7 separate regions of the Homo sapiens genome follow, and all the other regions are linked to region 5. Evidence: fine-mapped expression QTL. A gene starts in region 5. Each other region holds a variant in brackets. All regions are shown on one strand. Distances are from middle to middle.

Region 1 (4,067 bases), 70 kb before region 5:
ATGAGATTAGAGAGGGCCTTCATTCCTCCTGGAAGAACACCTGATGTACCTGAAATCTTTGTTGGTGACAGGAAATATGTCGATAGCATAGGGTTTCACTGTTGCCTCCCACACAGGGCCTTCACCATCTCTGTCATCTGGAGAATTTGTTCCCATCAGGAATCTCCCACCTGGCAGTGGGACCATGCTAGTAGCCTGTCCATTTCCTGCAGATAAAAAAGAGAGGTATCGGTAATACATGCATATATATAAAACAAGTGGTAATATTTGGATCGTATGCAATACTCATGATGGTATGACAAAACAAAACAAAAAATGTGGAGGTTTAAAAATCTGGCTTTAAATTCCTTTTGCATTTTGTTTGCCTTCACATTCTTGTTCTGCCACTTAGTTTGATGGGAAACCTTAGGCAAATTTCTTAATCTGAGATTCAATTTCTTTTCTTTTTTCTTTTTTTTTTTGTGACGGGATCTCACTCTGTCACCCAGGCTGGAGTGCAGTCATGCAGTCTTGGCTCACTACAGCCTCTGCCCCCGTGGGCTCAAGCAGTCCTCCCACCTCAGCCTCCTAAGAGCTGGGACCACAAGTGTGCACCACCACGCCTGGCTAATTTTTGTATTTTTTGTAGAGATGGGGTTTTGTTATGTTGCCCAGGCTGGTCTCAAACTCCTGAGATCAAGTGATCCTTCCACCTCAGCCTCCCAAAGTGCTGGGATTACAGGTGTGAGCCAACACGCCCGGCTGAGATTCAATTTCTTCATCTGAAAAATGAGGATACCTATGGACAACTGTAGCTTGTTCATAAAAGAAAAAAAAAATAAGTATGAAAAATGGGGATACTATCTCACTATCTCTTAGGTAGTAGCTGTATCAATTAAAGTAACATGGAACCAGGTTCAATGGCTCAGAGACAGGGTGCAGAAGCGAAGGCAGGAGGATTGCTTGAGCCCAGGAGTTCAAGGTTGCGGTAAGCTATGATCATGTCACTGCACTCCAGCCTGGGTGACAGAGTGAGATCCTGTCTCAAAAAATAAAAAATAAAAAGATAGTAATAAAATAGCATGGGTGAAATGTTGCGCACATGATAGATTTGCACTTACCTCTTTCTTCCTCTACACAAACCCTTGCCCCAACTAGGCGAATTTAGACACTCTACCCTAAAATACATCTAGCACTTTCTACCCATCCTTCTGCTCATGCTGTTTCTCTGCCTCTTCCTCTCCATTTACTGAACTCTTACAGTTCTTGGTGATTCTCACCATTATATGCTCCAGAAGGGAAGTATATAATACATATATATTTTTGACAGTATATACCTGGTCCCTGCCATAAATGCGCAATGATTATCGCCAAATAGTTAAATGAGCACCTTTAGACTTGTTTGAATGCCTCAGAAATATCATAGAATTAAAAAGGACCGGCCAGGCATGGTGGCTCACGTCTGGAATCCCAGCACTTTGGGAGGCAGAGGTGGGCAAATCACCTGAGGTCAAGAGTTAAAGACCAGCCTGGCCAACATGGCGAAACCCCATCTCTATTAAAAATACAAAAATTAGGCTGGGTGCGGTGGCTCACACCTGTAATCCCAGCACTTTGGGAGGCCAAGGTGGGCGGATCACGAGGTCAGGAGATCAAGACCATCCTGGCTAACAAGGTGAAACCCC[A/G]TCTCTACTAAAAACTACAAAAAAATTAGCTGGGCCTGGTGGCGGGCACCTGTAGTCCCAGCTACTCGGGAGGCTGAGGCAGGAGAATGGTGTGAACCCGGGAGGTGGAGCTTGCAGTGAGCTAAGATCGTGCCACTGCACTCCAGCCTGGGCAACAGAGCGAGACTCCATCTCAAAAAAAAAAAAAAAAAAGCCAGGCATGATGGTGCACACCAGTAATCCCAGCTACTTGGGAGGCTGAGGCAGGAGAATCACTTGAACCTGGGAGGCGGAGGTTATAGTGAGCCAAGATCGTGCCACTGCACTCCAGCTTGGGGGACAGAGCGAGACTCTGTCTCAAAATAAATAAAAAAGGGTCTGTGCTTCAAACTCCTTATTCCACAGGAGGAAACCAAGACCCAAAAAAGAAATATGACTTAAAGAGCTGGTTAGCAGCTGACAGGACTAGATTCGGGTCTCTTTACAGTACTGTTTCCAATAGGCCACACTTCTTCAGCTTGATGCACCACTTCAGTGTCTTTACAAGAAAGGATGTCTAAGCACTGTAACTTCTTTCAAGGCAGAGTCCTGGTCTTTTGATGTTCCTCAAGATCCTGTCTTTGGCTCTCTTATTCTGACACATTCACACTGATTTCATCCATTTTTTTTCTTTCTTTTTGTTTTTTTTTTTTTGAGGCAGAGCCTTGCCCTGTTGCCCAGGCCAGAGTGCAGTGGCATGATCTCGGCTCACTGCAACCTCTGTCTCCTGGGTTTAAGCGATTCTCCTGCCTCAGCCTCCTGAGTAGCTAAGACTACAGGTGCGTGCCAACACTCCCAGCTAATTTTTTGTATTTTTAGTAGAGATGGGGTTTCACCATATTGGCCAGGCTGGTCTTGAACTCCTGACCTTGTGATCCACCCGCCTTGGCCTCTCAAAGTGCTGGGATGACAGGCTTGAGCCACCGCGCCTGGCCTATTTTCAGTTTCTTCAACAAATATATCACCAAGGGGAAAAAATGGATCATCCTGGCATGGTGTCTCAGGCCTGTAATCCCAGCACTTTGGGAAGCTGAGGCAGGGATTGCTTGAGGCCACAGTGAGCTATGATGGCACCACTGCACTCCAGCCTGGGCAACACAGTGAGACCTTGTCCCCCCGCCCCACCAAAAAAACAAATAAATAAAAGGAGTAAGTAGGGAAATAATCAGATTGAATCAGAATTAAGAAATAACATACAATTGCAATGTATGAGCTTTATTTTGTCCCTAATTCAGCCAGCAAACGTTAAAAACCCTTTATGAGATAATAGATGAATTTGAACAGATTGGATATATTATTAAGCAGCACTGCCAGTTTTTTAGTTGAGAAAGGGTAATTATTTTTTCGTGACTTCTTTTGACTATTCCAGCTGAAGGTTTAGAATAAAATGGGTTATGTCTGGACCCACTTCAAAATGGCTCCAGGAGACGGGGAGAGTGCGATTCCACAGGAGCAGGACTGGCCACAAACTGGCAGCTCTTTAAGGTGGCCCACGAGTACGTGAGGGCAGGGGTCGTTCCTCGTTACATTCTCCTCTTTCCCTTTTTTTTTTTTTTGAGATGAAGTCTCGCTCTATCTCCCAGGCTGGAGTGCAGTGTCACAATCTCGGCTCACTGCAGCCTCCGCCCCCTGGCTTCAAGCGATTCCCCTGCCTCAGCTTCCTGAGTAGCTGGGATTACAGGCCTACGCCACCACGCCCGGCTGATTTTTTGTATTTTTGTGGAGACGGGGTTTCACCATGTTGGCCAGGCTGGTCTCCAACTCCTAACCTCAAGTGATCCACCCGTCTCGGCCTCCCAAAGTGCTGGGATTATAGGCATGAGCCACCGCGCCCGGCCTCTCTTTCCCTTTTATAAGTTTGAAAGATTCCAGAGCAAGAAGTTGAAAGCACAAGGCGGTGAGGCACCCTGCGCACCGAGAGCGACCTCCCCAGCCGGCGGCTGCAGGCGCATCCCGGAAGCGGGCAGAGGGGCCTCAGGCTCTCTCCCGCCAGGGCGGAGGGCCCCATCCCCTTTCCCAGCGCCCCCGGCGTGGCCGGCGGTTCAATGACCTAGCCTGAGCCACGCACCAACCAGGAGCGACAGCAGGGACAGCAGCGGTGATGAACAACCCATGCTGGCATCAGGACTGGCGCGCCACGCCGCGCACACCCACGGCCCCGCTGCTCATCCGCCCTCACGCACCACGGTGGCAGTCGCCTCCTCCACACATGCGCATGCTGCTCCACCACCGCCCCTCACCCAACGGTTCAGCGGGGGAAACTGACGGACACGAGGTGTAGGACTGGCCATACCACCTGCAAGGCTGCCCAGGGAAGTAAGGAAAAGCAGGTTGAGGGTCCCTAGAGGCCCCTTCACTACTTTTTGAACCTTTGGACAGCTTTCA
Region 2 (4,067 bases), 210 kb after region 5:
GGTGGAGTGCAGCCGCACGATCTCAGCTCACTGCAACCTCTGCCTATGGGGTTCAAATGATTCTCCCACCTCAGCCTCCCGAATAGCTGGGATTACAGGTGCCTATCACCATTCATGGCTAATTTCTAATTTTTGTATTTTTAGTAGAGATGGGGTTTCACCATGTTGGCCAGGCTGGTCTAGAACTCCTGACCTCAGGTGATCTCCCTGCCTTGGCCTCCCACAGTGCTGGGATTTCAGGCATGAGCCACCGCACCCCGCCGGAAATGTATTCGTTTTCCACAGCCAAAATGGAAGAAGTATTTTCCCTATTCTTTTCCTTGGTAGCATTCTAAAAGCTAAGCCTTGGAATACTCTTGGACATCACCCAGCCATAAAAAAACAGACCTGAGAAAATTCCTAAACTCAGTCTGGGAAAGAAAAAGGTAAATGAGAATACTTAACAAATAGAATATATGATTAGATATTTTTTTCCAAAACCCATCTCTTTCATGCCCATTCTAATTATCCTCTTACCTTTTAGTCCTACTAATAAACTGCAAGTTACAATTAAAACACTGAAGTAAGTGAACAAATCTTTTCAGGGTGACAATCCCAGGGAGTGGCAGTGCTGATTAAAAAACAGATGTATCTCACTCACATGTCAAGTCAAGCCACCCAATCACTTGAGAGATTCTCCCACCCCATCCTGCTCACTTAAGTGCTAAACGACCACCCTCTCTGAAGACCACCCTCTCTGAAGACGCTGCACTATGCCTCAGTGACTGCCCCAAGTACATTTCACTTTGCAAGTTCTTGAACCATCTCACTGGGGTAAGGTTTGATTTGTCTTTTTGGATACTATCATTTCTTTCACAAATCTTAGAGAATCCAGTGGGCCGAAATTATTTCTGTGTTCTCCCCTCAATACCAGCATATGATTGATTGACCAGCAATATGTCTCCGGAAATGGACACTGGGTTGGTTTGAAGACAATCTTAACTTCTCAAAGGGTTTGCTTTTCAAAGGAAGAGTACACCAGGAGATTCCTCTCAGCCCCAGGGCATTCACCTGCTCCCTTGAGAGGCTACACTCCAACCTCAGGTTGTCCTCTGTCTCCCATTCCCAGATAACCAGAGTTCATTCCAGGCCAGGAGCTGAAATTTACCAGAGATTCTAGCATACACAGCCACAGTGGATATTTTGATTTATCCTCAGAAAGTACTGAAACCCAGGACCAAGGAAAAAACTGAAGAGTGACTAAGGACACATTACCTTATAAAGTTTCCAAAGGGAAACCTTGACCCAAAAATATTCTGATAAGATCTCTGTACCTAGGGAAGATTTAAAAAAAAAAAAAAAGGCACAGAGATTTTTTACAATACAGCATCAGGGGATGAGTCTTTGGTTTCTTCTCATGGGAAATATTTACAAACAGATAACAAATCTTTTTTAAAATGCCATCCATGCTTTGTCAAAAAATGATTAATTAAAATACAGTATTTCAAATGTACACTAAAGGACAAATAGTTGATAATGTGAATTAGGAAGGGGAAGTTGGCATTTGGGAATGTCAGAAGGAACTGGAAATTTAGTATTTTACTGCAAGCCAGAGTTAGGCTGAAGGAATGGGAAATGGGGAGGGGGAGGAGTCTTGAGACCCTGCTTGGGACACATGTGAAAAATGAAGGGGAAGATCTGTCCCCTGTGGAGTGTGAAAATAATTAAGTGGCAGGCAATTAGACTGAGGT[C/T]GCTCCAGTCCCAGGGTTTCTGGTTTTAAAAAAATCTAACTCAAATGCATTTTTTTGTAAATTACTACCTTGTGAAAAATAAAATTCATGTTTAACCAACTGTAAACTGCCAATTAACCTCTGATTACATGACCAGGAAATTTCCTCCTTCATTGTACAAATTAAGAAACTACATAACTCTACTAACCAATTACTGAATTTGGTTTTATCATACACCTTATACAAGTGTTTCCTTCAAACCCCTCCCACGGACCACTACTGCAAACCACAGCTGGGTGCTCCACAATTCTTGAATCACTGTTTGATTAAATTAATTTTTTTGCGGTGACTTTCATAAATTTTAATAGGGGAAAAGAGGGACAGGGAAGCCCGCGGAGGAAACCTCTTCCCATTCATGAACCCAGCACCCCGAGTCAGGATTCTCCCCTGACGACCCTCCCGTCGTCTCTGCACAATCGCTGCGGGTGCAGAGCTGCTCAGAGAGGGCTCCAGGCCAGGGCACAGTCACTGCGCAGGGAGGAGACAGGACGCCTGGTTCCGGCTGTCAGCCCAGCTGCCATGCTATGGCTTAAGGGGACTGAGGGCCGAGCTGTGCCAAGAACTCGGGGCCGCGGATTTTGCAGCCGACTGCGGGAAGACCCGAGTACTGCCACAGCCACTTCCGACCGGTTCCAACCAGCTCCCTCCCCCTCTCTCGGGATGTCGGACCCAGCACTCTCACCATTTCTAGGCTTCCGGGGGATCCTGGCGTCTTAGCTGTGAATCTCCCAATAACCAGATCACAGCGCCACAGAGGCTGGGCCTCTAGGAGTAAGAGGACGCAGAAAAGTGAAGGCCAGACCTGCAGCACCCGCTGCAGCGAGACAAAGACCCCGCCGCCTCCCGGAAGACGTCATGTCCGCTCCAGCTGGGTGCCTGATTGGACCGTTCCCAGCCCGGCGTCCCTGATTGGATAACGTTTAACAACCCGCCCCCTCAGGCCCTGAGTGACAGATGTGCTCAGGTGCTGGGCTGAAGGAAGACAGAGTTAAACCTAAGCAGCAGCCTTTTCCAGAAGGGCTTCCTCCCTGAGCTGAGTCAGGCCCACCCCAGAGGGCATTTGCATTTAACCTTGTGTATAAGGTCGTATGCATTTATAAATAACATATAGCTATTCACATCTGAATATAACAATTATTTTTAAATTCCAGATTTTATAACCGTACTGGCTTCTGGTCCTTTGAGCAGGCAGCCTGAGATTTTTTTCTTTTTTTTTTTTGAGACAGAGTCTCACTCTCACCCAGGCTCAAGCACAGTGGCACGATTTCGGCTCACCCCAAACTCCGCATCTCGGGCTCAAGTGATTCTCCTGCCTTAGCCTCCTGAGTAATTGGGATTACAGGCACCCGCCTCCACGCCCGGCTACTTTTTGTATATTTAATAGAGACAGAATTTTGCCATGTTGGTCAGGCTGATCTCGAACTCCTGACCTCAGGTGATCCACCTGCCTCGGCCTCCCAAAGTGCTGGGATTACAGAGCACATGTGAATTCCAAATTTTCTAGTAGTCAAACTTTAAGAATAAACAGGTGGAATTCACTCTAATTGAGATGGTTAGTCATTTAGGCTGGGCTCAGTGAGACCATTCTTGTGACCTCAGCTGAGTTCCTTCAGACATGTATCATCAGCTGCTTGTTGACTAGGCAGCTGTGCTTCTGGGGGTGAGCTTCTGCTTCTGAGGCTGTCAACAGAGGCAACTTGCTTCTCCTCCCCATACTATTTTATCTTCCATCTGGCTAACATGGGCTTTTTTCGCGGAGATAGTAGCCTTCTGAAAGAAAAACAGAAGCATGCAAAACCATTTGAGCCTACGCCTCAAACTAGCACACTGCACTGTTCACAGGTTTTTACTGCCCTGAGCAAATAAGGCCAGCCAGATCTAGGGTTTGGAAAACAGAACTGGATCTCAATGGAAACAGCTGTAAATGCACCTGGCAATGGGCATGGATAGCGGAGGGATGAAAAATTGCTAACATTTTTGCAATCAGTATCATTCTGCCTTTTTTTGCATATGTGGTTTATATAACTCTTCCACATCAAAAAAAAAAAAATTTGTGCAAAGACCCACAGCTATTAAGTGGCTGGGCTGGGACTCAGAATTAACTCCATTTGACCCTTGAAATCCTGGAGAGTGACACTTCTAAAATAGAAGCCAGATTTCTTTTAGATTTGTGCCCATATAGCACTGTTTATTATTATTGCTAGAAATAATCTTAAGAAATTGAAGAAGCACACGGTAGCTCACATCTATAATCCTAGCACTTTGGCAAGCTGAGATGGGAGAATCACTTGCGCTCAG
Region 3 (4,067 bases), 28 kb after region 5:
GCATAATTTTGAGAAACTCTATGTTAAACAGTTTTTTAAATTCTCTTTTTGCATCAAGTCTGAAATGTGTGAGTAGTGATTTCTGTTCCATTGGTTTTTTTGTTGTTGTTTATTTTTCTGTATATTCCATTCTGTTTTTACTACTATAGCTTTGAAATATAGTTACATATGTAAGGCATATGCAGTGCCAATATACCTTTTCAGGATTTGGCTATTTTGGATTGGCTTTTTCTTTTTATTTGGCAGGACAGATTTGCTGCTGGTATTATTCTCACTTGACAGCTATTTTCTTCAGGACTTGGACAATGTCACACAGTTAGTTCCCTTCTGGCCTGCAAATTTTCTTGAGAAATTCACTCATTACCTCATAAGACTATGCTTATAAATAACATATCACTTTTATCTTGCAACTCACAATATTCTCTTGTCTGTGACTTTTAAAATTGTGCTTATATATGTTCTTGTTGTAAATATCTTTGTGTGTATTCTAGTTTCTTTGTTAACCTTTTTAATTTTTACATCAGTTTTTCTTATAATTTTTCAGTTCCTTTTTTATATTTTTTACCTCCACAATATCTGTTTTTTGATATTTTTAATATTTTTGTTATCCCAATTTTTATGATTTTTAATAGTTGTCTGTGTTTCTATTTCATTCATGGAGTATTATTCAATTTATGTTAACTTTTTAAAATTAATTTTTTAATGGTTGCTTTCTGAAAATTTTATAATATCTGATAGAGCTATGTTGCCCTAAAATTTTGTATGCATTGTAATCTTTAATTGAAATTTGAACATTAAAAACAAGCTACCTGTCACAGTGTCTATAATGTAGCTTTGTCCTGGCAAAGTCTGAAACCATTTGTCTTAGCTAGAGATCCTGAGAGTCTTTCAAACATGTTCTTAGGATGTGTCTTGTCTGAAATGTTCTAGTTGTTTTTTAGTTAAAAGACTTTATTCATGTTTCTTCTTAATAGTCATCACTTGCCACAACTGTTCCCTGTCTGTAGTACAGTCTCTTTCCTGCTGTAACATTTACCTTTGATCTCAGCAGACTCAAAATGTCATTCCAAAGTATACCACTGTTAATTTCAGCACTTTATGTCATTGGAGACAGAAACCAGTGTCCGCCAAAGCACCTAATAAAGCCAGAAATAAAGATGTGGGTGTGTTATTTTTCTTGTCTGTTGAAAAAGAAAGCAAAAGTTGGTAATGTACTTCTAAAGACACTATGTTATACTGAGGAGCAGAAAGAGCTGTGTTGGGTAAATGTAACCAACTTTTCTCTTCCTTCCATGTGGCTTTTGGAATTGTGATAACCTGGAACACTGCACACACGTAACTCATTTATAAATTTTCTATAAATGCATTTTGGTCAATATGCTCTTGTTACATTTATATGTCTATGAAGGAATTAGAACCTGTGGTATTTTGCTATGCCATCTTGCTTATGTAGTTTCTGTAACTTTATGGGTTAGATTTGTAAAGTATATTCATCTGAGTCGAGCAAGTGAAGTAGTTTGTTACTTTTATTTCTTTCAGTTATGTTTTATTATTTTGCCCAACACCTTTGGCCAGAGCAGAACATAAGAGATTCTTTCCAGAAAGTGACCCTAAGAAGATATAGAAAATGTGGATATGAGAATTTACAGTTAAGAAAAGGCTGTAAAAGTGTGGTTGAGTGTAAACAGCACAAAGGAGATTATAGTGGACTTAACCAATGTTTGAAAACTACCTTGAGCAAAATATTTCAAT[G/A]TAATAAATATGTAGAAGTTTTCCATAAAATTTCAAATTCAAATAGACACAAGATGAGACATACTGAAAATAAACATTTTAAATGTAAAGAATGTCGCAAAACATTTTGCATGCTTTCACACCTAACTCAACATAAAAGAATCCAAACTAGAGTGAATTTCTACAAATGTGAAGCATATGGAAGAGCCTTTAACTGGTCCTCAACCCTTAATAAACATAAGAGAATTCATACTGGAGAAAAACCTTACAAATGTAAAGAATGTGGCAAAGCCTTTAACCAGACCTCACACCTTATTAGACATAAGAGAATTCATACTGAAGAGAAACCCTACAAATGTGAAGAATGTGGCAAAGCCTTTAACCAGTCATCGACCCTTACTACACATAATATAATTCATACTGGGGAAATTCCCTACAAATGTGAGAAATGTGTTAGAGCTTTTAACCAAGCCTCAAAGCTTACTGAACATAAGTTAATTCATACCGGAGAGAAACGTTATGAATGTGAAGAATGCGGCAAAGCTTTTAACCGATCCTCAAAACTTACTGAACATAAGTACATTCATACTGGAGAGAAGCTGTACAAATGTGAAGAATGTGGTAAAGCCTTTAACCAGTCCTCAACCCTTACTACACATAAGAGAATTCATAGTGGAGAGAAGCCCTACAAATGTGAAGAATGTGGCAAAGCTTTTAAACAATTTTCAAATCTTACTGACCATAAAAAAATTCATACTGGAGAGAAACCCTACAAATGTGAGGAATGTGGCAAAGCTTTTAACCAACTCTCAAACCTTACTAGACATAAGGTAATTCATACTGGAGAGAAACCCTACAAATGTGGAGAATGTGGCAAAGCCTTTAACCAGTCCTCAGCCCTTAATACACATAAGATAATCCATACTGGAGAGAATCCCCACAAATGTAGAGAATCTGGCAAAGTTTTCCACCTATCCTCAAAACTTAGTACATGTAAGAAAATTCATACTGGAGAGAAACTCTACAAATGTGAAGAATGTGGCAAAGCCTTTAACCGATCTTCAACCCTTATTGGACATAAGAGAATTCATACTGGAGAGAAACCCTACAAATGTGAAGAATGTGGCAAAGCTTTTAACCAATCTTCAACACTTACTACACATAAGATAATTCATACTGAAGAGAAACAGTACAAATGTGATGAATGTGGCAAAGCTTCTACCTGATCCTCAAAACTCATTGAACACAAGAAAATTCATACTGGAGAGAAACCTTACAAGTGTGAAGAATGTGGCAAAACTTCTAACCATTTCTCAACCCTTACTAAACATAAGATGATTCATACTGGAGAGAAGTTACACAAATGTGATGAATGTGACAAAGCTTTTAACCAATCTTCAACCCTTTCTACACATAAAAGAATTCATACTGGAGAGAAACCCTACAAATGTGAAGAATGTGGCAGAGCTTTTAATTGATCATCAAACCTTATTAAACATAAGAAAATTCATATTGGAGAGAAACCCTACAAATGTGAAGAATGTGGAAAAGCTTTTAACCAGTTCTCAACTCTTACTACACATAAAATAATTCATACTGGAGAGAAACCATATAAATGTGAAGAATGTGGCAAAGCTTTCAACCTATACGTAAACCTTACTACACATAAGAAAATTCATACTGGAGAGAAACCCTACAAGTGTGAAGAATGTGGCAAAGCTTTTAGCCAAGTGTCAACTCTTACTATACATAAAAGAATTCATACTGGAGAGAAACCCTACAAGTGTGAAGAATGTGGCAAAGCTTTTAACCAAGTGTCAACTCTTACTATACATAAAAGAATTCATACTGGAGAGAAACCTTACAAATGTGAGGAATGTGGCAAAACTTTCAGTCGATGCTCAAAACTTACTACACATAAGAAAATTCATACAGGAGAGAAACCTTACAAATGTGAAAAATGTGCTAAAGCTTTTAGCCAGTCTTCAACCCTTTCTACATATAAGATAATTCACACTGGAGAGAAATGCTACAAATGTGAAGAATGTGGCAAAGTTTTTAACCGATCTTCAAACCTTACAGACCATAAAAAAATTCATACAGGAGAGAAATCCTACAAATGTGAAGAATGTGACAAGGCCTTTAACCTGTCCTCAACGCTTACTAAACATAAGGTAATTCATACTGGAGAGAAACTGTACAAATGTAAAGAATGTGGTAAAGCTTTTAAACAGTTCTCACACCTTGCTATACATAATATAATTCATACTGGAGAGAAACTCTACAAATGTGAAGAATGTGGCAAAGCTTTTAACTTATCCTCAAACCTTACTGCA
Region 4 (4,067 bases), 55 kb after region 5:
CCAGATTTAGGATTTGCTCCGTTATTAAGTCCTTGATATTTCAGGGCAGTACAAGAATTTCGATAGGTAGGAAAATGCATACAATATACACACATGGCTTTTCTCTGATTTGCTTTAACATTAAAAAATTGAAGATTACAAATCTAATCTCTTAATTTACAGTAAATTTAAAAAGGATTTATTTTTCCACCAAGAAAATAATTATATAAAATTAATGGGTAACAGATGCCTTTAGCTGCCAGAAAATAGCATGACTAGATTCAGTAAGTATGTAGCCACGCAAATAACAGTCCATTACATTAAGACCCTAATAGGTGCATGTGGAAAACATTTCTGTGCTATGTTGTGCACCTTCACTCTGCACTTTCTTCTGCCTGTTTACAGAGATACCAATTTCCCCTGAGTAACTCAGGGTGAATACCGGGAATTGAGAATGCTGTGTTCAGAGGGATTACTACAAACATCATTAACACATTTTTCCATATTATAAAGACATTTCATAAATCTTATTCTGCCTCACAAAGGCTTTTAGTAAAAAAAAGTTTCTTTACAGTGTTCAAATTGAATTCATGAAAAATTTCAATATTCTAGGTAAGTCAGAGACACTTAAGTGTCAACAAAATTTCATAATACATACTTGAATGAGATAAAGTCTTCTTAACTAAGAATTTTATTTTATTTTATCACTACATTTAGAGAAGAATAAAAAACTGGTACTTTGAGCCAAATAACAGTGTTTGGCACGTGAGTACCACCCAAACAAGTGCTTTTCATCATCATCATTAAAATGGCAATCCATGTGCTTTCCTGGCACCAGGTGGCCTGTTTTCCACTGATATAAAGTGGAGAAGGCTTTATATTAAAATAATGAAGGAGGGTGATATAAATTGAATACCTGTATGAAATACAACTTATAATAAAAAGCAGAAAGAAATCTTACCACTAATGCTTCTCCTATAAAATATCACCAGAAATTAACTGGTTATTATCCTCAGTTTTCCTTCCATGAAAAATGGCAGGGACACATTGTAAGGAACATCAAAAGAGAACAGATGAAGTAGCCAAAGGAAACAGGTTATCTGATCAGACAGCTAAGTCAAAGGTGAGGAAGCCTCAAAGAATTAACACACTTCAAGCCCTTCGAATATAGGAAGGCTCCATAAGAGAAAATAAACCTCAGTATTTCTCTGTGGAAATAGAATGGGCTGCTTCTTGAGGGTATATTTTCATCTCTCAGGATGGCTACAGTCAGAGGACAGAGGATGGCAAACTCCATTTGCCAGCCTCAAGCCAATGGAAAGTCCTTAAAATCCTTCAACAAGTTTTTCACTTAGGAAAGGATAAATCTTATCATTGTGTTCAGAGATTCTTTTCAGGCAGAAAACCTCTAAGTTGGTTAAGCATGTAACCTCTCTAGCTCACTTCCAACAGGAATTGACACAACTGGCAGAAGCCCAACCCCAGGAAATAGGAACACCTTTGTTTAACTCGAGATTTGGCATTAGTGAAAACTCTCTCCTTTCCTAAACTCAAACTGGGAAGAGCCCTACACTGATTTTCTTTCAAGCCCCTTGGCAGTAAAAGTTACAGGTATCAAATTCTGAATGCATCACACTCAAGTCAAAGCCTGAAGAGCTGAGGGAGCAACCTCTGACAGCCCAGAGGAATGTCCTGAATATCAGTGTGGAGAAATAGAAGATCTTAACCTGAAAATCGTAAAAGATAAGTAACTGAGTGAGAGCTACTCATCTTACTCAATCCCATCTACCTCACCAGATACTTTAAAAAAATTCTACATTTCCTCTCAAAATTCACCGCCAAATATTAGACCTTCTTTTTAATGCATATTTGCCAGAAATTTCAATTATACATAGAATTGCATTTGTAACTTCATAAATTCCCAAAGGAGAATGTTATAGCTTGGCAAGTAAAGTTTTAAACAGAAACTATTTACTACACCACTTTTGCAGGAATTGTTATATTCACGCTATTATTTGCAATAGAACTGTACACTGTGGCACCCACAATGTGGAATTCTGGTTGTAAAATTCTAATTGCTGAAACAATTTGCCTAATTATTATCTTTGTAAAAGGATTAGCAGTTGCAGAAAAGATTTAGTCAAGTTTGTTTTGCTTATAGCAGGAGTAAGAGTTATGGATAGGAAGTAAGCATGGAAGTTTTACTATCGTTAAGTTTGATAGGACTTTGTATTAAAGATTAGTACTATGGTGCACTCTAAGCTATGGAAAGAAGGTTATAAAAA[GA/A]TTTTATATAAGAAAATATCTTGTATGGTAAATTCTTGTCCTGAAAGGAAATGACTGGCTGTTTAAAGGAAGGATGTTTAGGACAAGTCAGAAATTTTAAGAATCTTGTAAGAGGGCCTGTCATGAAAGAATTTAATAATTAAAGGAAAGAAATTGCTAAGATCAACACTAAAGTTATTTTAGCCACCCAATAACGTATTCTCCCAATGATATTGTAAGTTATAAAAGATGGCCTAAACCTAATAGTATTCCCTAATGGCAAGTCATGGGGGAAATGTATGTTTTCTCAAAACAAATGTTACTTTCATATTAACATTTCTGGCAATGTACAGCAACATCTAGTGGAGGCAAACTGGTATTACAATCCATTGGTGTAGCTAACAGCTAACAAACTCTGCTGTCACAGTTATGGTCTATAGGATCTCTACTAACAATGGTAAGCTAAATACTCATATTCTAACCCTATATTTCAAGCCTTCTTGAAAAATTTCTCTCTTTTCACCTAGAAACAATTAAACCTTAAATGGTGCTATGAACAGAGCCACACATGGACACACCATTCTTTTGAGAACCCTTAGATCAACCTCAGAAGGAGCCCCAACTGCTGTCCCCCTGCCACAGCACTCCTTTTCTTTCTTTTCATTTTTTCTCTCTTTTTTTGTTTTTTGAGATGGAGTCTTGCTCTGTCACACAGGCTGGAGTGCAATGGCATGATCTCAGCTCACTGCAACTTCTGCCTCCCAGGTTCAAGCAATTCTTCTGCCTGAGCTTCCTGCGTAGCTGGGAATACAGGCAGATGCCATCACGCCTAGCTAATTTTTGTATTTTTAGTAGAGATTGGGTTTCACCATGTTGGCTGGTCTTGAACTCCTGACCTCATTATCCACCCACCTTGGCCTCCTAAAGTGCTGAAATTACAGTCGTGAGCCACCGCGCCCGGCCCACAGCACTCCTTTCCAACAGGAAGTACCCAGAAAGAGTTACGTTTGCCAAGCCCAGCTCGGTCGTGGAGACCCTAACCCAGCAGCACTAGAGGAATTAAAGACACACACACAGAAATATAGCATGTGGAGTGGGAAATCAGGGGACTCACAGCCTTCAGAGCTGAGAGCCATGAGCAGAGATTTACCCACATATTTATTGACAGCAAGCCAGTGATAAGTATTGTTTCTATAGATTATAGATTAACTAAAAGCACTCCTTACAGGAAACAAAAGGATGGGCCGAAACAAAGGGATGGGCTCTGGCTAGTTATCTGCAGCAGGAACATGTCCTTAAGGCATAGGTTGTTTGTGGTTTAGGAATACCTATAAGTGGTTTTCCGCCCTGGATAGGCCAGGTGTTCCTCGCTCTCATTCCGGTAAACCACAGCCTTCCAGCATGGGCGTTATGGCCACCATGAACATGTCACAGCGCTGCAGAGATTTTGTTTATGGCCAGTTTTGGGGCCAGTTTATGTCCAGATTTGGGGGCCTATTCCCCAGCATATCCCCCTTCTTGTTTTTGCAGGGCAATAAAAGCAAAGGCAGCTTTATCACGGTGAGCTACTTCTCGCAGGAGTCAGGATCTGCATCTGCAGACTACACAAAGACAAACAACACAGATTAATAACACAATCATCATTGAAATCACAGAGCTTCCAAGTGTTTTCATCCATTTTAATGGGTTACTGGCTGCTAATCCGTCTGCAGCTCCTTCAAGCACTCCAGTTCCTGGTATTAAGGTCAGATGTGCCTGGGATGCTTTAAATATTTGTTCTTTTAACTTTGCAATATCCAAAAACCAGTTTGTATAGTGTCCTT
Region 5 (4,067 bases):
GATTACAGGAGTGAACCACCAAGCCCGGCCTGACCTCTTGGCTATTACCAAAGTATGTTTGCTTCTGAGGAAGCTGGAAGCTGCAGCCACAATGTGCCTTTGCAGGGGAGCCTGAGAGCCACAGGTAAGGACAACTGAGTTAGACAGGAGGGATGAGGCCTAGGGGGAGGGCAGAGTGCATCACATTCCCCCACCCAGACCCACGGGCCACGGCATCATGGCCCCATGGAAGGCCCCACTCCTGTCTCTCTGTCTGTGTGATTCCCAGTTATTCCCATTCCCCCAACAGATAAACCTCCCAATGGATTCAATGCATACACTTTTATTAAATCTCACTCTGTCACCCAGGCTGGAGTGCAGTGGCATGATCTTGGCTCACTGCAAGCTCCGCTTTACAGGTTCAAGCGATTCTCTTCAGCCTCCTGAGTAGCTGGGACTACAGGCATGCACCACCAGACCTGGCTAATTTTTTTGTATTTTTAGCAGAAATGGGGTTTCACCATGTTGGTCAGGCTGATCATGAACTCCTGACCTCAAATAACCCACCTGCCTCGGCCTCCCAAAGTGCTGGGATCACCTGCCCCAGCCTCCCAAAGTGCTGGGATCACCTGCCCACTCCCTTGGTGAGGAGCCCCCTAGGGCACCTCCACCTCCTAGAGCACAAATGTTGTTGAGATGAGCAGCTTGAGACATGGTATGGACCTATGCGGAGGTGTCCCTAGACAATGATGGCATCAGAGTGAGAGGCTGGATGAGGATGTGTCTGGGGGAGCTTCGAGGTGCTGTGATATGTAAGAGATCATTAATTACAGGATGCCACCCCAAGGAGAATATGCATGGACCAAAGATGAGGGGTCCCCAGGAGGGTAAACCAATAGTAATGCCCCCAGATTCCATTCCTAGCCAGGCTCCCTGCTAAGTGACAATTAGAAAAATTCCTCTTTACAGAAAACAGAGCATCAATTAGGTCCCCAACTACAGAGCCAGTCCTCTACCCTCCAGTGAAACTTCCAGTGGGCAAGAAAAGCTTGGGAAAGCCAGAAGGAATAGGAACCACAGCTCAGGCCGGGCCGAGGCTTCATAAATCAAAAGGACATTTTTTTTTTAAGAGATAAGGTCTCACTCCATCACCCAGGCTGGTGTGCAGTGACCCAATCATGCCTCACTGTAGCCTTGAACTCGTGAGCTCAAGTTATCCTCCCAGCTCAGCCTCCTGAGTAGCTGGGACCACAGGTGCACACCAACACGCCTTGCTAACTTTTATTTTTATTTTTGAGACACAGTCTCGCTCTGTCACCCAGGCTGGAGTGCAATGGTGCGTTCTTGGCTCACTGCAACCTCCACCTCCTGGGTTCAAGTGACCCTCCTGCCTCAGCCTCCCAAGTAGCTGGAATTACAGGTGCACGCCACCAGGCCCAGCTAATTTTTGTATTTTTATAGAGACAGGGTTTCACCATGTTGGCCAGGCTGGTCTTGAACTCCTGACCTCAGGTGATCCGCCCACCTCAGCCTCCCAAAGTGCTGAGATTACAGGCGTGAGCCACCGTACCCAGCCCATGGCTAATTTTTAAACTTTTTTGTAGAGATGGAGTCTCACTATGTTGCCCAGGCTGGTCTCAAGCTCCTGGCTTCAAGCAGTCCTCCCACCTCAGCCTCCCAAAGTGCTGGGATTACAGGCATGAGCCACCATGCCCAGCCGCAGAAGGGCAATTATTACACAGTGACAGTGGAAGGAACAGAGACACAGTCGGTGGATGGTGGGAAGATAAGAACATTCACTCTGAGGGCTTCTAGTAACGTTGGAGAAGTGAGCATCAGCTTAGCAGAAGGGAGGGAGGGAAGGAAGCACAGGAGGTTTGAGGAGAGAGAGAGAGGAAGTATGAAATCAGAGCTGCACTTCAATGTGGTGGCTATTGGCCATGTGTGGCTACAGGATAGCTGGAATATGGCTGGTCTGAACTGCGATGTGCTAGAAAGGTAAAATACAGGGTTAGATTTAAAGATTTAGTTCCAAGAATATATACACTACATTAATAATTACATATTGCTCCTATACTAAAATAATATTTTGGATATATTGGGTTATTAAATGGTTAGAATGAATTTCACCTGTTTCTTCTTTCTTCTTAACTACTAGAAAATTTAGAATTCACACATGGCTCACATTTTATTTCAGACGGTTGCCTTACAAGGCAAATGCCGTCTGGGGAGGGCCTGGGTCAGCTCAGGGAGGAAGCTCTGCCTGAAAAGGCTTAGGGTTCACTCTACATTCAGCCCAGCATCTGAGCACGTCTTCTGTCAATCAAGGCCTGAGAGGGTGGGGCCCTAAACATTATCCAATCAGGGACGCTGGGCTGGGACCCGTCCAATCAGGCACTCAGCTGGAGCAGACAGGACGGCTTCCGGGTTTGGTGGGGCCTTTGTCTCTGGCGGCAGCCGGAGCTTCTGGTGTAGTCTTCACTGCTCTGTGTCTTCTGCTCCTAGAGGCCCAGCTTCTGTGGCCTCGTTACCTGCAGGTATTGGGAGATCCACAGCTAAGACGCCAGGACCCACTGGAAGCCTAGAAATGGTGAGAGTGCCGGGTCCGACATCCCGAGAGAGGGGGCGGGGCTGGTTGGAACTGGTGGGAAGTGGCTGTGGCGGGACTCTGGCCTCCCCGCAGCTGGCTCCAAAATCCGCGGCCCCGAGTTCTCCTTGGCGCAGCTCGGCCCTCAGTCCCCTTCAGCCATAGGATGGCGGCCGGGCTGACAGCTCGGACCCCGGGCATCCTGTCTCCTCCCTGCGCAGTGACTGTGCCTTGTTCTGGAGTCCTCTGTGGGCAGCTCTGCCCCCACTGCCGCAGCTCTCCCCGATTGTGCAGGGACCACTGGACGGTCGTCAGGGGAGAATACTGACTCAGGATGCAGAGTTCATGAATGGGAAGAGCTTTGGTCTGCGGGGTTCCCAGTCCCCCTTTTTTTCTATTAAAAATTTGTGGAAGTCTCCGCAGAAATATTAAAGAATTTAATTAAAGAGTAATTCAAGAATTGTAGAGCACCAAGCTATGTTTTGTAGTTTGTGGTTTATGGAAGGGGCTTGAAGAAAACACTTTTATAAAGTGCATGATAAAGGAAAGCAAATTCAATAATTGGTTAGGTAAAGTTATGTAGTTTCTTAATTTGTACGATCAAGGTGGAAATTCCCTGGTCATGTAATGAGAGGTTAATTGGCAGTTTATAGTTGGTTAAGCCTGAATTTTATTTTCCCCCAATGTAATACTTTAGAAAAAAATCATTCGAGTTAGATTTTTTTGCAAGTAGCAACCCTAGGACTGGAGCCACCTCAGTCTAATTGCCTGCCACTTAATTATTTTCACACTCCACAGGGCACTGATTTTCCTCTGCATTTTTCACTTCTGTCTCAAGCAGGGTCTCAAGACTTCTCCCCATTTCCCATTCCTCCAGCCTAACTCTGGCTTGCAGTAAAATACTAAATTTCCAGTTCCTTCTGACATTCCCAAATGCCAATTTCCCCTCCCTAATTCACATTATCAACTATTTGTCCTTTAATGTACACTTTAGTGTACATTTTAGGTACCATATTTTAATTAATCATTTTTTGACAAAGCATTGGCTGGCATTTTAAAAAAGATTTGTTTTCTGTTTGTAAAGATTTCCCAAGAGAAGAAAGCAAAGAATAATCCCCTGACACTGTATTGTAAAAAATGTTCTGTGCCTCCTTTCCTTTTATTGCCTCTAGCCACAGAAACCTTATCAGAATATTTTTGGGTCAGGGTTTCCCTTTGGAAACTTTATAAGGTAATGTGTCCTCAGCCACCCTTCAGTTTTTTCCCTGGTTCTGGGTTTCAGTACTGTCTGGGGATAAATCAAGATATCCACTGTGGCTGTGTATGCTACAATGTCTAGTAAATTTCAGCTCCTGGCCTGGAATGAAACTTCGCATATCTGGGAATGGGAGACAGGACAGCCTGAAGTTGGAGTGTAGCCTCTCAAGGGAGCAGGTGGATGCCCTGAGGCTGAGAGGAGTCTCCTGGGGTACTCTTCCTTTGAAAAGCAAACCCTTAGAGA
Region 6 (4,067 bases), 90 kb after region 5:
AAATGTACAGAAAAATGAACAAAACCCAATGTAATATAAACTACTCTCACATATTTCAGATGTGATGCAAAAAGAGAACATGAAAAATAGTTTAACACAGAGTTTCTCAAAATTATGCAGATATCTGTGTGTCCCCCAAAACAATGGAAAAGCAGTAAGATTGTGCAGTTTCCTATATGCCAGGAATAGGACTTTAGCTTTCACCATAAACTTGAAGGAAAATCACTGAAGGGAAAGTAGAATCCTTAGAGAATTTAAAAGCATAAGACAGAATATGCTCCTATGTGAGAGCAAAGGAAAAAAAAAAATCCAGCTCTCCAGAAACTACTTTTTTTGAACGCAGCTTCCCAAATCACATTTTTTTTTTTTTTTTTTTTTTTTTTTTTGAGATGGAGTCTCACTCTGTCTCCAGGCTGGAGTGCAGTGGCACAATCTTGGCTCACTGCAACCTCCGCCTCCCTGGTTCAAGTGATTTTCCTGCCTCAGCCTTCCAAGTAGCTGGGACTACAGGCATGTGCCACCACGCCCAGCTAATTTTTGTATTTTCAGTAGAGACAGGGTTTCACCATGTTGGTCAGGATGCTCTGGATCTCTTGACCTCGTGATCCGCCCGCCTCGGCCTCCCAAAGTGCTGGGATTACAGACGTGAGCCACCGCGCCTGGCCCAAATCACATTTTAAGAACTGACTTTCTCCTTGACCTTTAGACCTGTCATCTGTGTCATCTGTTATATTCGCTATCACTCTCACCTACCTGGGGGTTTGGCTACCATCGCATGTCTCTTCATATTGCAGGGCTCTTTTCCTTGCTCCAGACAAGTGATCAGGTCTGGCTTAGAGACAGCAATACCTGTTTTATTAAAAATGAGTAACATGAATCTTGCTCATATTCTCCAATTATCAACCAGTAATGTGCTCAGTAAAGAGGATGTAATTAAGTATTCTAGTAAATTAATCCCAAAATATCTAATTAGTAATGTAAATTTCTAAATATTTAAAAAATATTTTAAATTTGTATGTTCTTAATTTCACTACTCAGTACTACGGAATGAAAAATTAGTGGTGGCAATTAGATTTTACGGTGTGGGCAACTTTTATGCCACTAAATTTTTGGAATTACCATTAATCTAGAGTGAAGGATACAGAGTAGCTCAAGAACGTGGAAAGTTCAAGTCAAGATGAAACATCTTGAAGAAATTCATTTCTAAATGAACAAATCCCCAGGATTTTGTTGAAAATAGGGATCTAAAATTTATTTATGCAAAGCAGAAATTTCCAAAAAACATTCTACAGAAAGGAGAAGTGAAACCTTTAAATTATGTATTAAAATTATCCTCACCCAGGAAGACCAGGTTTCTGTAGTTATCTAACATCACATTCCTATACAAATTCTGCTGTGAAGTGTCCAGGCATTGCCACTCCTCCAGAGAGAATTCTATGGCCACATCCCTAAATGTCAGTGGTCCCTGAAAAACACACACACACAAAAACATATTTACCAACTTGCTCTGGACAGAATATTTAATTTGACTCAAGGTGGAATGCGAAAGTAAAGAGAACTGGTTTTTACTTATAGGAGTGACTAAAATTATCCAATAAAATAATTTTCAAAACAGAAATATTCTCAAATGTGTTCTCTAACTCTGAGAAAAGAGTAGCATAAGATCCACAATAGCAGTTTATATATGATACTTTTCTAGATAATAAAGTATAAAATTAGTAACACAAACACGTACATTTGTGAGTGCTATATTTACATCATACAGAATCAGCTGTGTATATTTTTCAGATAGAAAAGAAATGCTGTGTTACAAGCTAGCTTTAAAATTTTAATGTGTACAGTAATAAACTGGAGATCTTGTTATGCAGATTTTCTTTCCAGAAGATCTGGAATAAAGTCTGAGTTTCCAAATTTTTAACAAGCTCACCAGTAATGCCAATGTTTTTGGCCCAAGAAGAATATTTTGTCAAACATCCAGTAAGTGGAAGAGCCTGTGATTTTCCCAGTTTTTCTGGCCTGTAAACAAAGATGAGAGCCTTTATTTTCCAAAGACAAATATATACAAAGGAAACCTAAGAAAGAAGGGCAGCTTCCAGATTAAATGTGATGGTTTATGCACATCAGCTGCATAAAGATACTTAATAAAGAAGAGAAAAATAATTAACTCTATAGTAAGAAAAATAAATCTGTCAGAGAGCTCTTTTATTTTATTATACTTTAAGTTCTGGGTTACATGTGCAGAACATGTAACATAGGTTACATGTTCTGTTACATAGGTATACCAAGTGAATCATTAACATCAACTGAACCAGGACAGATTTGTATGATGCGCTGAGGCACACAGAAAAACACAGCATCACTGCTTCAATATTGCCCCTCGCAAAAGTAAATTATAGTCTGAATTTAACCATACACAAACATCAGTTTTATGCCCTCTTCAAGATACAGATAACTCTTATGTTGTTATTTTGTGTGTATGGTTTTTTTTTTTTTTTTTTTTTT[TG/G]AGACAGTTTTGCTCCCTTGCCCAGGCTAGAGTGCAATGGTGTGATCTCGGCTCAGTGCAATCTTCGCCTCCCGAATTCAAGCGATTCTCCTGCTTCAGTCTCCCAAGTAGGTGGGATTACAGGCGCCTGCCGCCGCTGCCATGCCCAGCTAATTTTTTTTTTTTTTTTTTTACATTTTTAGTAGAGATGGGGTTTCACCATGTTGGCCAGCCTGGTCTCGAACTCCTGTCCGCCTCAACCTCCAAAAGTGTATGGGATTACAGGCGTGAGCGACGTGCCTATCTTATGTTGTTATTTTTAACAGTAATTTTAAGTAGTCTTCAACACCGTAGAGAGCAGTTTTCTCCTAATAATTTTTTTTCTTGTTGCCCAGGCTGGAGTACAGTGATGCAATCTCTGATCACTACAACCTCTGCCTCTCAGGCTCAAGCGATTCTCCTGCCTCAGTCTCCCTAGTAGCTGGGACTACAAGCATGTGCCACCACACCCAGCTAATTTTTGTATTTTTAGTATAGACGAGGTTTCACCATGTTGGCCAGGCTGGTCTTGAACTCCTGGCCTCAGGTGATTTGCCCACCTCAACCTCCCAAAGTGCTGGGATTACAGGCATGAACCATCATGCCTGGCCATCTCTGAGTAATTATTTTTTAGAACTTTTTGGGTAATAAATGTTATCCTGTTTAAATAAGCATTTTGTTAATTCTGTTCTGCATAGAGCTAATGGAGAACACAAATGAAACCCCAACATTACATGTTCTCCATATTTACAAAGGACCCCAGCTTGTTGGAAACAGGCCCCCCAAAATCTGGCCATAAACTGGCCCCAAAACTGGCCATAAACAAAACCTCTGCAGCACTGTGACATGTTCATGATGGCCATGACGCCCACGCTGGAAGGTTGTGGGTTTACCGGAATGAACACCTGGCCCACCCAGGGCGGAAAACCGCTTAAAGGCTTTCTTAAACCACAAACAATAGCATGGGCGATCTGTGCCTTCAGGACGTGCTCCTGCTGCAGATAAGTAGCCCAACCCATCCCTTTATTTCAACCCATCCCTTTATTTCCCATAAGAACTACTTTTAATCTATAATCTACATAAACAATGCTTATCACTGGCTTGCTGTCAATAAATACGTGGGTAAATCTCTGTTTGAGGCTCTAAGCTCTGAAGGCTGTGAGACCCCTGATTTCCCACTTCACACCTCTATATTTCTGTGTGTGTCTTTAATTCCTCTAGCGCCGCTGGGTTAGGTTCTCCCTGACCGAGCTGGTCTCGGCACCAGCTTTTCCCCAATAGGAATGTTGAGTATCCACAGCCACAAAGGAAACATTTTTAATGTTGCACATCACAAAGTCATGTGAGAATTCTGCATGGAATATAAGAAGCCACGATGTAGAGAAAGTAGAGTAGGCTCTGGTATATAGGAAAGAAGTATTTTTCAGAGATGCTTGACTATCATGAGAATTTTTTAAAGTAGTTAAAATAAACTTAATAGGGAAGAAAAATGCAAGTAGAGAAGCAAAGGTTTACAAGTACTAAACGCATGGCATTCCAGGAGGCA
Region 7 (4,067 bases), 360 kb before region 5:
GAGAACACACATTGCATTTGTTAAATACTTAAATTGCATTTTTTATTTTTATGGCATTGAGTATATTCTCTCCTAGAGAAGATTCCACATGCATTTAAGGAGAATATATAACCTGCAGGTGCTTCCTGGGGGCATACTAAGCATGTCTGCTAGGTCTAGTTATTTTTACCTTTCTTTTCAAGTGCTTCATTTTCTTGCTGATCTTCTTACTGCTTTTTAAATGATTATTAAAAGATATGTATGTCTTCGATTATCATCGTTGAATTCTCTATTTTTTCTTCATTTTTCTCGGTTTTGACTTTATGTATTTTGCCGATTATTTCTTGGTGTATATATGTTTATAATTGTCATGCCATCCTTTTTATTATCTTTTTTATTATCCATTTTATCTCTATCAAATGTCCTACTTTATGTCTATTAAATATTTTTGTTTTAAATTCTGCTTATTCTAATTTTAAAATAACAGCTACAACTTTCTTTTTTCTTTTCTTTCTTTTTTTTTTTTGAGACAGAGTCTCGCTCTGTCGCCCAAGCCGGAGTGAAATGGCATGATCTCGGCTCACTGCAACCTCTGCTTCTCGGGTTCCAGCGATTCTCCTGCTTCAGCCTCCTGAGTAGCTGAGACTACAGGCGTATGCCACCAAGCCTGATTAATTTTTTTGTACTTTTGGTAGAGACGGGGTTTCACCATGTTGGCCAGGCTGGTCTCAAACTCCTGGCCTCAAATGATCCGCCAGCCTCGGCCTCCCAAAGTGCTGGGATTACAGGCATAAGCCACCGTGCCCAGCCAACAAATACAACTTTCTTATGGTAGCTATTTGCATGCTTCCGCCTTTTCACTTTTATAGTATTTGTTCTTTTGTATCCAAAGTGCATGTATTGTGAACAGCATTCAATTAGATTTTTCTATATTTAATTTTTTAAATCTCAGCTTTCCTTAATTGTTTAATTTTTTTTTTTTTTTTGACGTAGTTTCACTGTGTCGCCCAGGCTGAAGTGCACTGGTGTGATCTTGGGTCACTGCAACTCCACCTCCCGGGTTCAAGAGATTCTCCTGCCTCAGCCTCCTGAGTAGCTGGGACTCCAGGCGTGCAGCACCACACCCAGGTAATTTTTGTATTATTAGTAGAGATGGGGTTTCACCATGTTGGCCAGGCTGGTCTCGAACTCCTGACCTCAAGTGATCCGCCTGCCTTGGCCTCCCAAAGTGCTGGGATTACAGGCGTGAGCCACTGCACCTGGCCCTGTTTAATCTTTTTATATGTAATGTTATTATTTATATAGCTGTGCTTATATTTGTTATATTATTTTCTTTTCTATAATCTCATGCATTTTGTTATATTTTTCTACTTCTACTGCTTTGTTTTGCATTAAGAGCATAATTATTATGTAACATTCTAATTTCTTTCATAATTTTCTTCACATATTTTTGGAATTATACCCTTAGTTGTTTCTCTAATTCTTACAATTAGAGATGGAGTCTCGCTCTGTCGCCAGGCTGGAGTGCAGTGGCACGATCTCAGCTCACTGCAACCTCAGCCTGCGGGGTTCAAGTGATTCTCCTGCCACAGCCTCTGGAGTAGCTGGAACTACAGGCGTGGGCCACCATGCCCAGCTAATTTTTGTATTTTTAGTAGAGACAGGGTTTCACCATGTTGGCCAGGATGGTCTCGATGTGTTGACCTTGTGTTCCGCCTGCCTCAGTCTCCCAAAGTGCTGGAATTACAGGTGTGAGCCACCGTACCCAGCCTAAAACATACTTTTTTTTTTTTTTTTTTGAGACGGAGTCTCACTCTGTCTCCTAGGCTGGAGTGCAATGGTGCGATCTTGGCTCACTGCAACCTCTGCCTCCCGGGTTCAAGCGATTCTCCTGCCTCAGCCTCCCGAGTAGCTGGGATTACAGGCACCCAACACTACGCCCAGCTAATTTTTCTATTTTTAATAGAGACGGGTTTCACCATGTTGGTCAGGCTGGTCTCGA[A/T]CTCCTGATCTCAGGTGATCCGCCCGCCTCGGCCTCCCAAAGTGCTGGAATTACAGGCATGAGCTACCATGCCCGGCCCCACAATATACATCTTATGTCATTAGAATGTGTTTCACATTTATACAAACTTAATACTAATGAAATACAAAACATGTTGGTTCTATATTATTTGTTCCTCTCATTTTTGTTGTATTAATTTTACACTTATTATATCCACATGTTATAAATTTGACACATTTTTACACTTATTTTATATAATTTTATTTATTTTAAGGAAAAGGTAATTACATATCTACGTCTTTTTTGATAATCATCCTTTTATTAGTTGTTTTATTTACTTATTCCAGTGGAATCAATTTATTATCAAGAGATTTTATTTTTTTGAGACAGAGTCTTGCTTTGTCCCCCACGCTGGAGTGCAGTGGTGTGATCTCAGCTCACTGCAACCTCAGCCTTCCAGGTTCAAGTGATTCTCCTGCCTCAGCCTGCCAAGTAGCTGGGATTACAGGCGCACACCACCACGCCCAGCTAATTTTTGTATTTTTAGTAGAGACGGGGTTTCACCATGTTGGTCAGGCTGGTCTCGAACTCCTGACCTCGTGATTTGCCCGCCTTGGCCTCCCAAAGTGCTGGATTACAGGCATGAGCCACCACACCCAGCCTATATTCATATTTTTATACAATTGTTTGTCTGAAATGAAGTAAGATAATAACGAAAAAGTAATATTCTTTTATACTTTCTTTTGTAATAATTACCTTTACCAATACTCTGTCATTTTATGTGAATTCAAATTATTATCTGTGGTCAGTTGATTTTAGCCTTATCTTCGTTTAATATTTTCTGTAAGATGGGCTGGCTAGCACCAAATTTTCTCAGTTTTTTTGCTCTGGAATGTGTTTATTTTACATTTAGTTTTAATAAATATATTTTCTCAATGTAGGATTTTTACATGACAATTTTTCTTTGAGGAATAAGAAAATTTCAATTGAACGTGAAAGGCTTTCAAGAGTGATTAGTCTTAATAATTAAAGCCTTAATAACTGAGGCTTATATAGTTTACTAACTAAAGCCTTTTAGTTTTAATAACTAAGAGCTTAGTTATTAAAGGCTTTAGTTTTAATAAATATATTTTCTTAGTACAGGATTTTTACATGACAGTTTTTCTTTGAAAACTAGAAACAAATTTCAGTTAAACTTGAAAGGCCTTTCAAGAGGACAAATCAATACCTAAAAACGCCAACTGGGTTAACATAGGAAAGCCTATCAATGGCAGAAGATAATATGTTAAATTGGGTTGGAGAGAGCAGTGAGAATAAAACTTGTGGACAATAAAAGTATATAAGGTGAGCCAGGCATGGTGGTTCATGCCTGCAATCCCAGCACTTTGGGAGGCCGAGGCAGGTGGATCGTCTGAGGTCAGGAGTTTAAGACCAGCCTGGCCAACATGGTGAAACCTCATCTCTACTAAAAATCCAAAAACATAGCGAGGCGTGGTGGCCGGCGCCTGTAATCCCAGCTACTCGGGAGGCTGAGGCAGGAGAACCACTTGAACTCGGGAGACGGGATTTGCAGTGAGTCGAGGTCACGCCACTATACTCCAGCCTGGACAACAAGAGCGAAACTCCATCTCAAAAAAAAAAAAAAAAAAAAAACAAAGAAAAAGAAAAAGTATATAAGGTGAGTAGTTCTGACTGAGGTCAAATGAGGAGCTATTATTATTATTTATTTTATTTTATTTTTTTGAGACGGAGTCTAGCTCTGTTGCCCAGGCTGGAGTGCAGTGGCGCAATCTCGGCTCACTGCAACCTCCACCTCCTGGGTTCCAGCGATTCTCCTGCCTCAGCCTCCCGAGTAGCTGGGATTACAGGCGCCCGCCACCACACCCAGCTAATTTTTATATTTTTAGTAGAGACTAAAAGGTTAACTTTTAGGTTCAACATAGGTTTCACTATGTTGGCCAGGCTGGTCTTGAACTTCTGACCTCAGGTGATCTGTCCACCTCAGCCTCCCAAACTGCTGGGATTACAGGCGTGAGCCACAGCACCCAGCCAAGATCTCTTGAAGACAGGTTATCTCAAAACTCAA

Alleles and levels. Positions count from the first base shown, and alleles are read on the strand shown. Sizes are in standard deviations (SD) of each study's normalised expression. Not every link is listed here.
As copies of A replace GA in region 4, the expression in tibial artery of the gene that starts at base 2,423 in region 5 goes up (moderate effect, 0.70 SD a copy in GTEx).

What was found.
Region 1: its variant is fine-mapped to the expression of ERV3-1 in whole blood (TOPMed, PIP above 0.99).
Region 2: its variant is fine-mapped to the expression of ERV3-1 in nucleus accumbens (GTEx, PIP above 0.99).
Region 3: its variant is fine-mapped to the expression of ERV3-1 in whole blood (INTERVAL, PIP above 0.99).
Region 4: its variant is fine-mapped to the expression of ERV3-1 in tibial artery (GTEx, PIP 0.99).
Region 6: its variant is fine-mapped to the expression of ERV3-1 in whole blood (INTERVAL, PIP above 0.99).
Region 7: its variant is fine-mapped to the expression of ERV3-1 in spleen (GTEx, PIP above 0.99).

What each region holds. Positions count from the first base shown.
Region 1 is chr7:65,074,763-65,078,829 of GRCh38, reverse strand. No RefSeq gene overlaps it. Among named protein-coding and RNA genes, the nearest start is that of SNORA15B-1, 6.3 kb to the right of the region's middle. The variant A/G (reference allele first, on the strand shown) is at 1,665.
Region 2 is chr7:64,792,956-64,797,022 of GRCh38, reverse strand. ZNF138 (zinc finger protein 138) reads right to left here and starts at 2,595. Exons shown (of 4, transcript NM_001271639.2): 1 at 2,452-2,595. The coding sequence starts at 2,454. RefSeq lists enhancers at 1,995-2,555, 2,340-2,579, 2,820-2,869. The variant C/T (reference allele first, on the strand shown) is at 1,731.
Region 3 is chr7:64,977,009-64,981,075 of GRCh38, reverse strand. It overlaps ZNF117 (zinc finger protein 117), which reads left to right. Exons shown (of 4, transcript NM_015852.5): 4 at 1,540-4,067. The coding sequence ends at 2,957. ERV3-1-ZNF117 (ERV3-1-ZNF117 readthrough) reads left to right here. Exons shown (of 4, transcript NM_001348050.2): 4 at 1,540-4,067. The coding sequence ends at 2,957. Among named protein-coding and RNA genes, the nearest start is that of ZNF117, 12 kb to the left of the region's middle. The variant G/A (reference allele first, on the strand shown) is at 1,753.
Region 4 is chr7:64,949,982-64,954,048 of GRCh38, reverse strand. No RefSeq gene overlaps it. Among named protein-coding and RNA genes, the nearest start is that of ZNF117, 39 kb to the left of the region's middle. The variant GA/A (reference allele first, on the strand shown) is at 2,265.
Region 5 is chr7:65,005,043-65,009,109 of GRCh38, reverse strand. ERV3-1 (endogenous retrovirus group 3 member 1, envelope) reads left to right here and starts at 2,423. Exons shown (of 2, transcript NM_001007253.4): 1 at 2,423-2,569. It overlaps ERV3-1-ZNF117 (ERV3-1-ZNF117 readthrough), which reads left to right and starts at 2,364. Exons shown (of 4, transcript NM_001348050.2): 1 at 2,364-2,569. LOC105375330 (a long non-coding RNA gene) reads left to right here. Exons shown (of 6, transcript XR_927607.1): 5 at 1-124; 6 at 399-436. RefSeq lists a silencer at 2,163-2,332 and an enhancer at 2,433-2,492.
Region 6 is chr7:64,914,979-64,919,045 of GRCh38, reverse strand. ZNF273 (zinc finger protein 273) reads right to left here. Exons shown (of 4, transcript NM_021148.3): 2 at 1,339-1,465; 3 at 754-849. Among named protein-coding and RNA genes, the nearest start is that of ZNF273, 14 kb to the right of the region's middle. The variant TG/G (reference allele first, on the strand shown) is at 2,503.
Region 7 is chr7:65,361,740-65,365,806 of GRCh38, reverse strand. No RefSeq gene overlaps it. Among named protein-coding and RNA genes, the nearest start is that of ZNF92, 10 kb to the left of the region's middle. The variant A/T (reference allele first, on the strand shown) is at 1,982.